Linked DNA regions of Homo sapiens: region 2 is linked to region 1. A link means that fine-mapping ties the variant in region 1 to the expression of a gene that starts in the linked region. Tissue or cell type: caudate. Region 1 holds a variant in brackets; the other region holds the start of a gene. All regions are shown on one strand. Distances are from middle to middle.

Region 1 (8,345 bases):
CTCCCAAGTAGCTGGGATTCCAGGCCTGTGCCACCAAGCCCGGCTGATTTTGTATTTTTAGTAGAGATGGGCTTTCTCCATGTTGGTCAGGCTGGTCTCGAACTTCCAACCTCAGGTGATCCGCCCGCCTTGACCTCCCAAAGTGCTGGGATTACAGGTGTGAGCCACCATGCCTGGCCACAGTCTGGATTTTGCTGGTTGCATGTTCCCAGTGCCGTTCTGCCTATCCCTCTGTCCTCACTATTCCCTGCAAATTGGGATCCAGAGGGTTGCCCAGCCTCTGGATGGATGGCTTTGGTTCTGTGCTCCTGCATCAGGAGGCTCAGGATGCCTGGGGAGCGTCTCTCTTTGTAATGTACTTGTCGTTGCTCAAAGCCTAGATTCACTAACTCACTGGGGATTGCAAAACTGTACTACTCCACCATTGCTTTTAAATTTATTGATTGGAATACTTCTATAAAAAGAGGCATTTCTTCATCTGCAATTTTGTTACCGATTGGTACAGGAAAGGCAGAAGAATTGCTGGATTCCTTCCCTTTATTAGCCACTTTTCAAGATAACATGTTGGTTTCTCATCATCCTCTGAAAGTGATCAGATAGTCTTTATATTTTTTATTTTTCTTTTTTTAAATCACATGTACATATGCAAGTTTTAAAAATACATTTGTGAACTCGTGAGTTTAAACATAGGTGCATTTCCATCCATTGCAAATATTATTCATATTGAAGCTCACATGGTCACACAGCTTTGGCTGGTGGGAATGACTTCGGATTGGCCCTGAGTTCTTTGGCATAATTCTTTGCTATCTGGTGTAATAAGATAATTCAGCCTTGTCTTGTACACTGGCTGGCACCTTTCCAGTCCTGGAGTCAGCTATTTCTCCAAGACACCGTGCTTTTTAATTTTAGTGTTTGAAATGAGAAACGGCATTTCAAGACCATAATTGGTGTGTTAGGCTACTGAGGCGACTACTTTTTCTAGGCCTTTCCAGTGGTCAGGGCTAGCTGATATAAATATAAAATAAAAATTTTTTAAAATAAAATATCTTGGCCGAGTGCAGTGGCTTACACCTGTAATCCTAGGAAGCCAGGGTGGAAGGATCACTGGAGCCCAGGAATTTGAGACCATCCTGGGCAAAACAGCGAGACCCCCCGTCTCTACAAAACATAGAAAATTAGCTATGCGTGGTGATTGCACCTGTAGTTCCCACTACTTGGCAGGCTGAGGCAGGAGGATCGCCTGAGCCTGGGGGGTCGAGGCTGCAGTGAGCTTTCCTCATGCCACTGTACTCCGGCCTGAGAGACAGAGCGAGACCTTGTCTCAAACAAACCAACCTCCTGAGTTCATATCATGAACCTCTGAAATGTCTGCGTTTGGATCAGCCGTCTCATTTCATAACTCGTTGCCTTATTCAGTTGGAATTTCTGTCCTTCCCAAGGTGTAAAGCCTATGAGTTTTCTTTGCTAAGATGGACAACTGGGGAGGTTTCAGTGTCTCCCTCGTGCATGAGTATAAAGGAGACAAGGTGTCTATCCCTCTGCTAGACAGAGTTTGAGAGCCCATGTCCTTTTTATTTATTTATTTTTTATTATGAGACAGAGTCTTGCTCTGTTCCCCAGGCTGGAGTGCAGTGGTGCGATCTTGGCTCACTGCAACCTCTGCCTCCCGGAGTCAAGCGATTCTCCTGCCTCAGCCTCTCGAGTAGCTGGGATTACAGGTGTGTGCCACCATGCCTGGCTATTTTTTTTTTTTTTAATTAGAGACAGGGTTTCACCATATTGGCCAGGCTGGTCTCAAAATGCCTGACTGCAGGTGACCCACCTGCCTTGGCCTCCCAAAGTGCTGGGATTCCAGGCATGAGCCACTGTGCCCAGCCCCATGTCCTACTTAAATCACAGTACACAACTGGTTTCCTGAGGCTTGGGGACAATCAAACCTGGGACAACGGTGGCACTGGGGTTTGCTCAGAACCCAGCCCTGACCTCCTGACCCTCTGCCTTCCCGGGTGTCTGGGGAACCCCACACTCCTCAATTGCTTGAGTCTCTCGTCTCCCCACTGGGCCTGGGGAGGACAGAACATTCTAGAGACTTCTGGAGGCATCTCAGCTCTTCCAGCTAGTGGGCCCCCTCTCGTCCTCTCCGGGGTTTTGGGAAGCAGGTCCCCAGGGGTTGCTTGTGGGGCATCTCAGGAGCATTGCTCCGGGCAACCCAAGCTCAGTCCTCACCACCTCCTGCCAAGTCACCGCCTGCAGCCTCCCCACCTCGGAGACGCCTGCTCTGCCTGGAGCCCTCAGGTTGAGGGCACCCTTTGAGCCCCTCTTTAATCCTGCACTCCCCAAAGCTGTAAAAGAAGCCCCCAGTCTCCTTCTGTTCTCTCCCAGCCCTTCCCTTGCACAACAGACTCCTAGTGACTTGCTGTGATCTCACTCCCGGGGTCCTATGGCAGCCTAGCGATCCGGCCATCTCCGTTTTGGTAACAGACATCGCCGTTTTGGTAAGAACAGGACATCTTTGCCTTAACGAACGCTTTCTATGCACTAGGAACCATTCTAAGCAGTTCCTGTACCTTAGCTGGTTTGCTCCTCATGAGCAGCGTGTGAAGCAAGTGCTATTATTCGCACACATTTTATGAAAGAGGAGACCAAGGCACAGAGGTCACCTGGGCAATGAGAGGAAGAGTCGGGTCTTACTTGCTGACGGTGGGCTCCAGGGCCAATGCATCTAACTGCAGGACAAGACTGCTCAGGACTAGTCCTCAGCATCCTTTGGAGAAGAAGCCAGAACATGCACAAAGAATAAACTGATTGAGGCCGGTCACAGTGGCTCATGCCTATAATCTCAGCACTTTAGGAGGCTGAGGTGAGCGGATCACTTGGGGTCAGGAGTTTGAGACCAGCCTGGCCAACATGGCGAAACCCCATCTCTACTAAAAATACAACAATTAGCCGGGTGTGTTGGCGTGCTTGTAATCCCAGTTACTCTGGAGGCTGAGACATGAGAATAGCTTGAACCCTGGAGGCGGAGGTTGCAGTGAGCCGAGATCGTGCAACAGCACTCCAGCCTGGGTGACAGAGTGAGATCCTGTTTAAGAAAAATAAAAAATAAACATAAAAGAATACCCTGAATGCAAGAGTGGAGCCATCTCTTTGTGTCACCTGTTTCTCTCTAGAGCAGCAGTTCTAGAACTGGGGTTGGCATCAGGATCACCTGGAGGGTGAGTTAAAACACAGATTGCCATATCCTGTCATGAGATTAGGAAAAACACAGAAACAAATGAGGTTTGCCAGGTCCAAGGCTGCAGTATCTGGCTTAACAGGTCTGGAGTGGGCGTGAGATTCTGCCTTTCTAATGCGGACTCTAGTGACATGGATTCTGCTGGGTCTAGGAACCTCACTTTGGGAACTGCTGCTCTTGTAATTTTTTTTTTGAAACAGGGTCTTGTTGTGT[T/C]GCCCAGGCTGGAATGCAGTGGCGCCGTCACAGCCCATTGCAGCCTCCACCTCCCAGGCTCAAGCAATCCTCCCACTTCAGCCTCCCAAATAGCTGGGACCACAGGTGAGTGCCACCACACCAGGCTAATTTTTAAATTTAATTTTAAATTTCACGTAGATATGGGGTCTCCCTCTGTTGCCCAAGCTGGTCTTGAGCTCGAGCAATCATTCCACTTTGGTCTCCTAAAGTGCTGGGAGAGCAGGTGTGAGCCACCGTGCCTGGCCTCTTGTGAACTTTTGACCACTGAGGGAGACGAGGACTAGGCTGGTACTGCCCTGGTCCCTCCTAGGATAAAGCTGTGGTGGTCCCAGCTGGAACTTCCCAAACCAAGTGGTCTAGTGATAATGACCTCATGGGTATGTTAAGAAAGAGAAATGAATACATTATCCTCATGTATTCAAGATGCATATTCTGATGCATTTGCAGGTGACATAAGTGATATCTGAGATTTGCTTTAAAATATTCCAGCTCCTGTTCCTGCAAAAAGTTGAAGGTAAAACAGTGGCAGCTGGTGAGAAGTGCAAAGCCACCTAGTACACTGTTTTTCATGCACTGTTTATATTTTAAAATGTTAATAATAAGCCTTACTTCACGTAGACACAAAATGTTCTGGCTCCCTGACTTAGTAACTATTTGACCTAGAGTAAGAGGCTGACTTATTAGGATATCGAAGCCTTGGTTCTTTCTCCCATCCAATGGGGATACTGGCATCTTCCCAGCTGGGCTGGTTGTTGAGATCACGGATGCTGAGTGGCACTCAGCCTGGTGGGTAGTTAATGAAGCTGTAATTACCCGAATTTGCTCTTTGCTCACACATTCTGCAGTCCCCACCTGGCCAGGGAAGGCCCTCCTGTGCCCAGTGTGTAGGGGTACTGTCCATTTCAAGGCACCTGCTCAACGGGTTCCTGGGTTGAGTGTGGAACTTGCCAGAAACCTGCCCATCTGGGAGTAGGAGGTGTGGGTATGGGATGCATGACAGAAGGCCTGTCGGCCGGCACAGCCAGGAGGGCTGCCTAGGAGCTCCCGTGGCTGCCCCACACCGAGGTTCGGGCCTGCTGGGTTTTTCTTTACGTGGGGACAGGGTCTGGGGCAAGAATTCCCTGGCATCCAGATCAAAGGGGTTTCCAATAGAGTTCATGGGGCTCTTGGCCTGCCAAACTGTCTCAGTCGAAGTGTTTTCTGAGTGTTGGTTTGGTTTGGTTTTGATTGCAAATAACAGAAATCCACGTGTGCTAGCCTAAGCCAGAATCAGGGGTGCTGGCTACCGGGGACCATGGACTCATTGCCTGGAACCCAAGTTCAAAGAGGGCAGCCCCATCTCCTAACAACTGGAAGCAAGTCCTAGAAAACTGTCATGGTGGCTGGGAAACCAAAGAAAATGGAGAAGGTGGCTTTTCTTTCTCTGTCTCTCTCCTCTCCCCCGCTCCCTGTCTGTGGGTCTCTTTCTCTCTCCTCTTCCTCCTCCTCTCTTGGTTTCTCTGTCTCTTTCTCTCTCCCCCTCCCCCTCATATCAAAGATTAAAGGCAGGAGCTCCAAGTTCCATCCTCTCTGTTCAGACAGCCACCAGGTTAGGACTAAGTTTTGCCCAGCGCTTTCCGAGTGCCAAACCTACATCAGGAAGTGTCACCATTTCCTCCATAAGCGGAACACTAAGTATCACTTAGTTCCACCATAGGCCGGGAGGAAAGTGCTGGTTTCATCTTTCTCACTTCCAGAGAAGGAAATGGAAGCAACACAGAGAGGTTCACAGAGAAGTGGTAAAAGAAGCTGCCTGAACCCACGCCGCTGAATGCCTCAGTCCGGAGCCAGGCTCTAAATCACTTGCCCTGTGCATCACCTTCTAGCATCAAAGACTCAAGAGAAGGCCAGGCACGGTGGCTCACACCTGTAATCCCAGGACTTTGAGAGGCCGAGGTGAGTGAATCGCCTGAGCCCAGGAGTTCGAGACCAGCCTGGGCAGCATAGCGAGACACCATCTCTACAGAAAAATACAAAAATTAGCCAGGTGTGGTGGCGTGCACCTGTGGTCCCAGCTACTCAGGAGGCTGAAGCAGGAGGATCACTTGAACCCAGGAGGTCGAGGCTGCAGTGAGCCATTATTATGCTACAGCACTCCAGCCTGGGCAATAGAGTGAGACCCTGCCTCAAAAAAAAGGAAAAAAGAGCTGGGTGCAGTGGCTCACGCCTATAATCCCAGCACTTTGGGAGGCCGAGGCAGGCAGATCACGAGGTCAGGAGATCGAGACCATCCTAGCTAACACAGTGAAACCCTGTCTCTACTAAAAATATAAAAAATTAGCTGGGTGTGGTGGTGGGCGCCTGTAATCCCAGCTACTTGGGAGGCTGAGGCAGGAGGATAGCGTAAACCCAGGAGGCAGAGGCTGCAGTGAGCTGTGATCGCACCACTGCACTCCAGCCTGGGCAACAGAGCGAGACTCTGTCTCAGAAAAAAGAAAAAAAAGACTCAAGAGCACATTCTTGGAAGGGAAATAGAATTGGCTCAGCTTGAGTCAGGTGACATGTTTCTGGACCAATCAGCTGTAGCCAAGGAGGTGGGTCTCATACGAAGACCATGAGGACCCCGGGCCCAGCGTGATGGGACGGTGGGCCTGGCACCCAGTCCCAAAAGCCTTGCTTCCTTCCTTTCTCCTGGATAACCCACCTCTGCCTGCCACAGACACCCAGAACCCTGCTGCCTCCATCTTCCCACTCATGCAGTTAGATGAGGCCTGAGCTCCAATCCCACCCCTGCCATTTCTCCAAGGATCCGCTCTTGGGCAAGTGACTTCACCTCCCTGGGCCTCAGTCTCCATTTGTGAATGGGGCCATAATTCCCACCTCTCAGGGGTGTGGGGAGAGTCGGTGACATAATGACCCAGGTAAAACTTTCAGCATCTCCACATTATTTTCAGGGGTGAGAAAAAAGAAATGGCTTGGAGTCTGAGCTTCCTGGGATGTGCAGAATTCATCAGGCTCGGAAAGACGAGAGTGTGGGACCTCAGTCATGCCGTCACCCCCAGGCCTAGGGGTAGTTAAAGGCATTTTGTTCCTGACTTGCTGCCTCACCCGCTATCTTCATGTTCTGGGAATTTGTGACACAAAGAACAATGCCTAGCCAAGCAATAGTTTCTATTATTTTCATATAAATTCTTGGTAAACAGCTTGGGAACTGCCTTTCCTTTTTTCCTTTAAAAACCTACTTGTAACTGCTGCTGAGTGGACTTTATATTCAGAGCAGCTTGAGTCCATACTCTCAGGTTGAAATCCTCAAGCTTGGCCCAAATAAACTCTCTACTTAATTTAACTAAGTAATTAAGTCATTTTTTCCTCCGTTGTTTTTTTTTTTTCCTTTAGGTCAACAGGGTCAAGTTCAAACTCAGCGTGTGAACCGGCTGGCACCTGCTTAGCTTTCTAGCCCCACATCCTCTCACTCTTGGGTGCCCCCTTTCCCTGGCCATGCCCACCTGCTTGGAGGTCCTTGAACTTCTCTTCTCCATGCCTTTTTCAATGTTCTTCCCTCTGCCTGGAATGCCTTTACCCCTCTTCCCTCTCCTGACCTAGCCGCTTGCTCCCTGCTGGGGGTTCAATGACGTCTCCCCAGAATGCCCATGTCCTAACCCCCAGAACCTGCGGATGTGACCTCATTTGGAAATAGGGACTTTGCAGATGGGATGAAGTTAAAGGTCTCAAGAGGAGATTATCCTGGACTTAAGAGGGCCCTAAATCCAATGACAGGTGTCCTTCAAAGAGAAATCAGAGGGAAATCTGGGACACGGAGACAGAGGCAAAGGCCACGGGAAGACGCTGCAGAGATGGGAGAGGCACATCCTCAAGGCCGGGAGTACTGAAGTGGCCGGCTGCCATCGGAAGCCGGGAGAGAGGCGCCGGGCAGATTCTCCCTCGAAGCCCGGAGAGAGGCACGGGTTGGATTCTCCCTTAGAGCCTCCGGAATGACCCAGCCGTGTCAACACCTTGGTTTTGGCTTTCTGGCCTCCAGAACAGTGTGAATGCATGACTGTTGTTTCAAACCACTTGGTGTGTGGGCATTTGTTAACAGCAGCCACAGAAACTCATACTCAGAAACTTTGCTCAAACGTTGCCTCCTCTGGGAAGGCCGCCCTGACTCCTCATCTCGACTGGAGGCCCAGATCCCAGTATGACCCTCTCCTACCTCTTACCTCGGTGGCCATGATCAGCGACGCACCTGTGTGGCTTCACTCCAGAACGTAAACTGAAGGGCGGGATTCCCTAACGGCTTAGATTACAGCAGCCTCTCCCAGAGAAGTCCACAGTCTAACAGGCCTCGCAGCTGTCAACAAAAGATGGTTCTGTAATGGTGGAACTTCAGGCAGCTCACAGGGGCCTGCAGGAAGGATGTTTTGGGGGCTGGGCTCCTTTTCACTCAGGCTCCTACTCCAGGTGTCTGCACGGGAAGAACCTCTGTGGGGGCTGTAAGATCAGGTTTGTCCTGAAAGACAGTCACCTGAAATGAACCCACCTGCCTTCTCTTTGGACCAACTTACTGATATCTGTGAGAATGTTCTAGAAAAAAGGCTCAGGGTGCGAGCTTATACTGGCAACTCAGATGGAAAGCAACCTGGGAGGGAATGTGGCCACATCCGAATAACCAAAGTCCAAAGGGATTATTATTATTATTATTATTATTATTTTTCTGAGACAGGGTCTTGCTTTGGCATCCAGGCTGGAGTGCAGTGGCACAATCATGGCTCACTGCAGCCTCGACCTCCTGGGCTCAAGCGATCCTCTCACCTCAGCCTCCTGTGCTGGGACCTGAAGTTGTGCACCACCATGCCTGATTTTTTTTTCTTTTTTTTAAGAGACAGAGTCTCACTTT
Region 2 (8,000 bases), 23 kb before region 1:
ACACGTTGGCATTAAACAGTGAACTGTGACCAGTTGCTGGGTGCCTGTCTCTGCCTCCTGGTTGGGATACCTGAGGGTAGAGAACTGTGCATCCTTATCAGCCCCAACTCCAGCTGGTAGCACTCACTTGACACACAGAGGGAGCCCCCTCCGTGAATCTAGGTTGAATGGATGGGTGGTCACTACATTCGTCTGTTGGGATCCAAGCCTCACCCTGGAGAGCCCAGAAGGATGCATCTGCTCACCAGCCAGGAAGGCAGTGGGCTGGGGCTATACCTGCCTCACTTAAGAGATGGGAGCCCTGAGGGGCAGAGACAGCTTCCCCCGGAGTTGGCGCTGAGTCACCTGGGAAGCAGGAATTTCTGCTCCAATCTCTTCCTTACCCTAATGTTCAGGTCAGCAGTGAGAAGCTTTTTCTAGTAACTAAATTAAGGAGGCCTCTCAAAGACCTTTTTGTTGTTGTTTTGTTTTGAGACAGGGTCTCACTCTGTTGCCCAGGCTGGAGCACAGTGGCATGATCACAACTCACTGCAGCCTTGACCTCCCAGGTGCAAGCAATCCTCCTGCTTCAGCTTGGTGAGTAGCTAGGACCACAGGTGCACACCACCACGCCTAATTTTTTGCAGAGATGGCATCTGGCTATGTTGCCCAGGCTGATCTTGAACTCTGGGGTTCAAGTGACCCTCCTGCCTCAGTCTTCCAAAGTGTGGGGATGACAGGCATGAGCCACTGCGCCCGGCTCAAACACCTTTCTTTCCATTCCTGGAAATGCTGAAATCCAGTCTCCAGTGCTTCTAACATGGGGTCGTCTCCAGTTCCCCTCTCAACCACCAGTCCTCTGTCTGGTCCTCTACTCTTTGATTCTCCAGTGCACCTGAGACCACTGGGTCTCAAATAAAGCATCTCCCAGTTTCTCAGCTGACCATTGGCCTCCTTTATGAACTTTGTTTTGTACACATCTGTATCCTCAGCGCCTAGCAAAACTGGCTGTCAGGAAATGCTCACTGAGCAAACAAACGTGGCCCCACTAGGAGCCTCACATCCTCATTGATCACATGACGAGAGTAAAATTTACCTTGGAGGTAAGAGGCCCAAGAGAAGACACAGCAAGTTCTCAGTAACAATCACTATTAGAACTGGGGTAACTGGTCAAAGTGGCTGGGGGAGGGGAGGGCTTAGAGGCCTCCTACAGGCATCCTGGATGTGGCATGTAATTAGTGCTCATAAAAGACGGTTCTATTGAGGAGTGAAAATGGAACCCCTAAATAAACTAGTATGAAATAACGCAAAAAAAAAAAAAGACAATTCCAACTATTGTAGAAGTGATCACCTCAACACACATCGCCTCCTTTCCAAACCCTGGGAGAAAGGAGTTCCAACGAGAGGACATGAGTATGACAGCAAAGGAGGTGTTCAGGTCTGAGCCAACCTGGCAGGAAGTGAGTGCCTCGCCCAGCCACCCGGCCTCCCCACCTCCCTCCCTCCTCACACTTCCCATCGATCTTCATTGCCATTTCCTGGGTTTGCACATTTCCTGGGTTTGCACAAGGCTGCCTCTGGAGACAGCATGGCTTCTTTCTCAGCTGGCCTTTGGTGTCAGTGCTGGTATCACCCGCCTCCTGGCGCTGCACACTGCCCATCATCACGCACCCAGGGCCTCAGGATGCTGCTGAGAGCACCCCGGTCCACAGCCAGGTGGGAGAGCACACTGACAGACCGGCTGAACACCTGTCAGACCTCTGAGAACTCTCCTGCAAAGCTTTGGAGGGACGAGTCCACCTGGCACAGAGATCAAACTCTCCCAGCATCTCCCTTGAGGTTACATCATCCATGCACCTGCATTCCTGGACATCCTGTGAAACCTGATGGTAACCAACTACACACCAGGAGAGTTTGAAAAATACCTGGCCTGATGCAAGAATCAAAAGATGGAAAGGAAAAAACAGGAATGGCAACATAGGAAAGGCAACCTGTGATGGCAAATAAACTTCAAACTCCTTTAGCAGAATGTATCGCAGAAGCAGAGAAATGGATCACAGCCAATTAATTGAACTCTATATCCTATCAATATTAACATGCCACTTCAGAAAAATCGAGATTGCTCAAAAACTGCTAGTTACGTGGTCCTGTGGCCTACCACCCTAAGACCAGAATTCTTACATCAACAGGGATGTATAAAACACTATTTTTAAAAAAGCACAAAACACTATTTTTAAAAAAGCACGAATACTTAATCTCACAAACAAAATGTTTTGACCATTAGTATTCTTTGGGAGAAAAAAATAAAATTTTAAGTCAAATATTTTTTCAGCTAATTTCTTTTTTTAATTAAAAGGTAAGTTTACCTTTGAAGTTTCCTTTCACTGGTCAAAAGGCCATCGCCAAGTCATATTTCTAATTAGCAACCCAGGGGACTCGTTCAGAAATGTTACTTTTGAACGACTGCTTAAGCGTAAATGAAAAAAAAAAAAGTGCAACGACCCTCTGGCGTGCAGAGAAACGCTTCTGCAGAAATTCAGTGCCCCCCTGACCTTAAAGCATGCAACGAGTTCTGTTTGCGAAGCTAAAAAGAAGGGTGTTGGGTCACCCTCAAGCCTGGCTTCACCCCTGGCTTCCAAGAATCCAAGGAACAGGAGGGGCTTTATTTGACAGCTTTGCCACTTCGTTCCCTCATGAACCGCCCTGCCCTGGCACCCTGCTGCTTTATCCCAGAGGGTCCCTGAAGGTTGCAAAGCAGGCATACAGCTCTGAGTGACTTTCTAAAAGTACCTGACTGTAGGAAGTGAGGCTGGGAGGTCCCTCAGCTCCAACTTTGCTTTCTATTATTGCTACAACATTTCAGCAATCTTTTGTTTTTTGCATCCCTCTAATTTTATTTTCCAATTTAAGTTTTAAAAATCCATAAAGCAGCCCAAGTCTGGAGACCCAGGAATTTTAATTCTCTGGAGTCAGAGAAACCTAGGTTAAGTTCCCAGCCAGGTCACTTCCTAGCTCCGTGCCCCTTAGGGAATATACTTAACCACTCTCGGCCTCAGTTTCTCAACCACAAAATGGGTTCACGTGAGGGTTCCATGCTGAGCTCCCCGCGCCAGAGCGCAGATGAGAGCGCGGTTGCTGTGAGGACAGCTTCTTTCCAGAGCCAGGGGAGGAGGGCGAGTTCGCGGATCGCAGCGCGAACGCGGGGTCTCGGGCCGGGGACGGTTACGACGGAGGGGATGGGGGGTCGGGTCGCACGCCCGGCGCGGAGTCGCGGGGACTCACCAAGGCTTCCTCTTCGTCCTTCTCCAGCGCCTGGTACTGGCGGCCCCCGCCCGAGAAGCCGAGTTTCTTCAGGAACTCGGAGACGCGTCCCTCGACCATGGTGAGCGGGCGCAGGCGTTGCCTGCGTCCCTAGGTCCCCGGCGAGGCCCGGGATGGCTGCGCGCGCCCAAGCCTCCTGGGCCGGACCCGGTTACCAGGTAGCTGTCTACCTGCCCGCGGCAGGTGAGGCCCCGCCCCTGGGGCGGGGCTGCGCACAGGGAGGTGCCGGCTCACCCGGCCCCGCCCCGCGAGCTCGCCTGGGACCCCAGGGGCTCTGGGGACAGCGCCGGCTGGCCATGAAAGGCCCAGGGAGAGGCTGCGTCGCCTCAGGGCTTGGGCTGTTTCCCAAACTTACAGATCCTAAGAATCACCTGGAGTGGGGGAGGTGGAGGAGCAAATGCTGGTTTAAAATCCGGATTCCCAGACCCCTCCCTGCCCAGTCACGGTTTGGAGCCGCCGGGAGCTGGGTTTTTAACGAGCCCCAGGTGATCCTCTTGAGGAACCCAGGGTGGGCGGCTCTAAGGCGCCGGGAGCGAGGTGGCTGGAGCTCAGTCAGACTCACACCTGCGGCTGTGCACTCTGGACGGGTCACGTGGCCTTTCTGAGCCTCGGCAACCTAGCCTGTCATTGAGCGGGGAGCAGCAGAAGGCTAAGACCCCCACCTCCAGGGCCCTGGGAGTGAGTCCAGGAACAGGAGCGACTGAGAGCCCTGCTGCCTTTGGCGCCTGCATGGTCTCGGATGGTCAGGGCCCCTGTCCTCGTCTGCAGGATGAGCGCCGCTCTTGCTCGTCGTGGGACCTGAGCAGGTTTCTTATATTTTTAGCGCCTTGGTTTACTGCTCTGCAGAATGGCCACCACGATAGCGCCTCCTTCACAGTGACATGGAGAGGCCCCAGCGGACAGTGCTGTACAGGAAGGTCTCGAGCAGGGCTTGGAGTAGAGAATGTGCTGGTGTCCCCATGACACCATCCTCCTCCTCTTCATCATCAGAAGGTGCTGGGCTCAAATGGCTCCCAAAGTATGTGAGTCCATACGCAGTGTAGACAGTTGCCAGCAGCCAAGTGGGTGCTTTGAAGTTCCAGGGCTTTCTTTGGCTTCAGGTAGGACTAGATCCGTAACTAGACCCACCACTTAGCAGAGGGGGAGCTCTGGGGAAGTCCGTGCCACCCGCCTTTCCGCTGGCTTCCTCATCTCTACAGGGAAGTTACTCACGGGCTACAGGAGGTGCCCTCTGCATTTGTCCACGAAATTCAGCCACCCCTTTTGAGCAAATATTTGCCACCTACCTCAATTGCTCCCGAGGGTTGACTCCAGGCCACGAAAACCTGCAGGGCAGTTCCAGTGCCCCTTCTTGTATCTCCTGCATCTTCCTCTTTCAAGGAAACAAAGGCTACGGTATCAGCCTGGCCCCACTCCCCAGTTTCAACAAAGGTGCAGGAATAATGGTAACAGCAAACCTCTGATGTGAGTGAGTCCAGATTTGAATCCCAGGAATGTTCCTTTCCGACCTTGGGCAATTTTCTTCACCTCTCTCCACCTCAGTTTACTCATCCATAAAATGGGGATGTCACTACCTACCCGTAGGAGTCAGGGTCCCAGTAGGAAATAGTAATTTGAGGAGAGTTTGAGAAACAGACTTTTTACAAAGCTGTGGGGAAGACGTAGAGAAACCAGAAGTGCTTGTGTCATTAACGAAGACTAGCAAAGAGTGAGAAGTGGCTTTGGTCCCACCCAAGGCCTGAAGGGCCAGACGAGAGAGGAGTTACCTGGAGGGGGAGCTCTGGGGCACTGATAACTTCTGCAGAGGGCAACTGCTTAGATCAAAAGCCAGAAAGCAACAGAGCGCCAAGGATGCAGCCTCCTGGGCAGAGAATCCAAAGAAGGGTGGAGAGTGGTGTAGAGGAGGCTGGGCAAGGTGGCTCACACCTCTAATCCCAGCACTTTGAGAGGCCAAGGTGGGCGGATCACCTGAGGTCAGGAGTTCGAGTCCAGCCTGGCCAACATGGGGAAACCCTGTCACTAGTAAAAATAGAAAAATTAGCCAGGTGTGCTGGCATGCGCCTGTAATCCCAGCTACTTCGGAGGCTGAGGCAGGAGAATCGCTTGAACCCGGAAGGTGGAGGTTGCAGGGAGCCAAGATTGTGCCACTGCACTCCAGCCTGGGCAGTAGAGCAAGACTTCATGTCAAACAAACAAAAAAAAAAGAGTGTTGTAGAGGAACAAGGAGGAGACATCCCGCAGCCAACCTCAGCATCCTGTGGTTCAGGCTGAGTGAATGCTTGCACAGGTATGATGTAGTAGTACGATGTCGTGGTACCCGACATTGCAGGCTCTCAGGCGCTTCTATATTATTAATATAAAAGAACATATGGGAACTTGGCTCAGTTATTTCTCAGGTCCTTCCCAAGTGGCATTCTGTGATTTTAAAATGATGTTGGATCCAGGGAAGAAGAACGCCTTGTTGGCATCTTCATGTTTTTCCAAGCTGTTAACCAGATGTCATCTCTCCAGGCAGATCAGCATCCCCGGAGCAGAGGATTTGAAAGCCCAGCCTTTCGGATCCTATCACCATGGCTTCCGCTCCAGCCCAGAGATGTCAAGGCTGGAATTCCTGGGCTAGGTTCGAAAATGCCCAGGGCATTCCAGAAGGAAACTCTAGGTGGTGGATATATGCATGTACATTTTAGAGACAAGGTCTCACTCTGTAGTCCAGGCTGGAGGGCACTGGCGCGATCATAGTTCACTGTAGGCTTGAACTCCTGGGTTCAAGCAATACTCCCTCCTGAGTAGCTGGGACTACAGGTGCACAGAACCACACCCAGCTAATTTTCTAATTTTTATTTTTATGTAGAGATGGGGTCTTTGCTCTGTTGCCCAGGCCTATAAATTAGATTTGTGGTGTGTAAAATTAGGTAAATTAGGCTCCACCAGTGTTGGTTATGGTAAATGATGTGCCTGAAACATGGCAAATACTCCAAAAAATTTTTGAATATGTCTCCCATAAACAGCAGATCATTCAAATTTATATTTAACAGAACTTTCATATGAACGATTTGCTTTATAATAGGGAAATGTAGGCCGGGCGCAGTGGCTCATGCCTGTAATCCCAGCACTTTGGGAGGCTGAGGCAGGCGGATCATGAGGTCAGGAGATTGACACCATCCTGGCAAACACGGTGAAACCTCGTCTCTATTAAAAATACAAAAAATTAGCCAGGCGTGGTGGCGGGCGCCTGTAGTCCCAGCTACTCGGGAGGCTGAGGCAGGAGAATGGCGTGAACCCGGGAGGCGGAGCTTGCAGTGAGCCGAGATCGCGCCACTGCACTCCAGCCCGGGGAACACAGCGAGACTCCGTCTCAAAAAAAAAAAAAAAAAAAAATAGGGAAATGTATTGTGTTTACATTGTTATAGTTGTCATTGTTAGATTGACTTCTGTCATCCTCTTTCATGTTTCATTTCTGTGCCTTTTGAGGCAAGCACTCAATTTGCTGTCAATTTTTACTTTGGTTTTGGAATAAACATCTCATTGAAAGTTCTATTGGGAGCTACCTGAAAACACTTCAGAAATACAGATGAGTATTTACAGTCTCTTTTGGTTTCCTTTTCCAGATTTAAAGAAATTTTCCAACTTTAATTTTTGTTTTTCTAACCTCTGCATCCTTTTATATTCTAAGTAAGTTAATTATCCAAACTCTCTCTTTTTTTTTTTTTTTTTTTTTTGAGACAGAGTCTTGCTCTATTGCCCAGGCTGGAGTACAGTGGCACCATCTCGGCTTGCTGCAACCTCCACCTTCTGGGTTCAAGCGATTCTCGTGCCTCAGCCTCCAGATTAGCTGGGACTACAGGCATGCGCCACCATGCCTAGCTAATTTTTTTTTTTTTTTTTTTTTTTTTTAGTAGAGACAGGGTTTTGCCATGTTGACCAGGCTGGTCTTGAACTTCTGACCTCAAGTGATCTATCGGCCTGCCTCAGCCTCCCAAAGTGCTGGGATTACAGGTTTGAGCCACCGTGCCCGGCCCAAGCTCTTACCTTCTGAGTTGGTTGTTGTTGTTGTTGTTGTGTGTTGTTGTTTCCCCGTCAGTTACACCTGCTATTTATGTTTGCCTTAAACGACCTTTCTGAGCTCTGTCTGTCACTTTGTTTGGATTCCGTGGTCATCCCCACAGACTTCAAGATTCTGTTTTTTCAAGTTTTTTGTTTATTTTTTCTGCCTTCAGCCTGTAAAATGCTAGAGCCCACTTGCAAAGAATCTAACAAGGCAGTTGGCTGGAGAACTTTCTGGGGTTTGCGGCTCAACGCCTCAGAGTGATTCTGCCCTATTGGCCAACGATGAACGCCAAGGGTGGGACCCAACCAGAGGCATCCAGCCTTTCTCAAAATGTCTGCTCTGGGCACCTTGAACAATGAGGTCATGCTCTGCAACTCCCATTCACTCTCTATGTCAGAGTCGTGTCTTTTCACTGCCCACAAATTATCCCCAGCAATGCGCCCTGCTGGGAGCCAGGATGCAACCTCAAGACACCTGTATTTTGTTTGGTAACAAACTTCACTCAAAAGTTCTCTAAGCGTGGCACTGAAGACATCCTTTTTGGAAAGGGTACACTGTACAAAAGTATATTTTGTACAATTTGTTTCTAATGTTAAGAATTAGGTGGAAGTTACGGTTCCTTGCATAAACCCTCGATTCTGTTTGTTTTGCA

The links. PIP is the estimated chance that this variant, and not a neighbour inherited with it, causes the effect.
Region 2: ATP2C2 starts here. The variant in region 1 is fine-mapped to the expression of ATP2C2 in caudate (GTEx, PIP 0.98).

What each region holds. Positions count from the first base shown.
Region 1 is chr16:84,341,095-84,349,439 of GRCh38, reverse strand. No RefSeq gene overlaps it. Among named protein-coding and RNA genes, the nearest start is that of ATP2C2, 23 kb to the left of the region's middle. The variant T/C (reference allele first, on the strand shown) is at 3,449.
Region 2 is chr16:84,363,976-84,371,975 of GRCh38, reverse strand. It overlaps ATP2C2 (ATPase secretory pathway Ca2+ transporting 2), which reads right to left and starts at 3,438. Exons shown (of 27, transcript NM_014861.4): 1 at 3,262-3,438. The coding sequence starts at 3,360.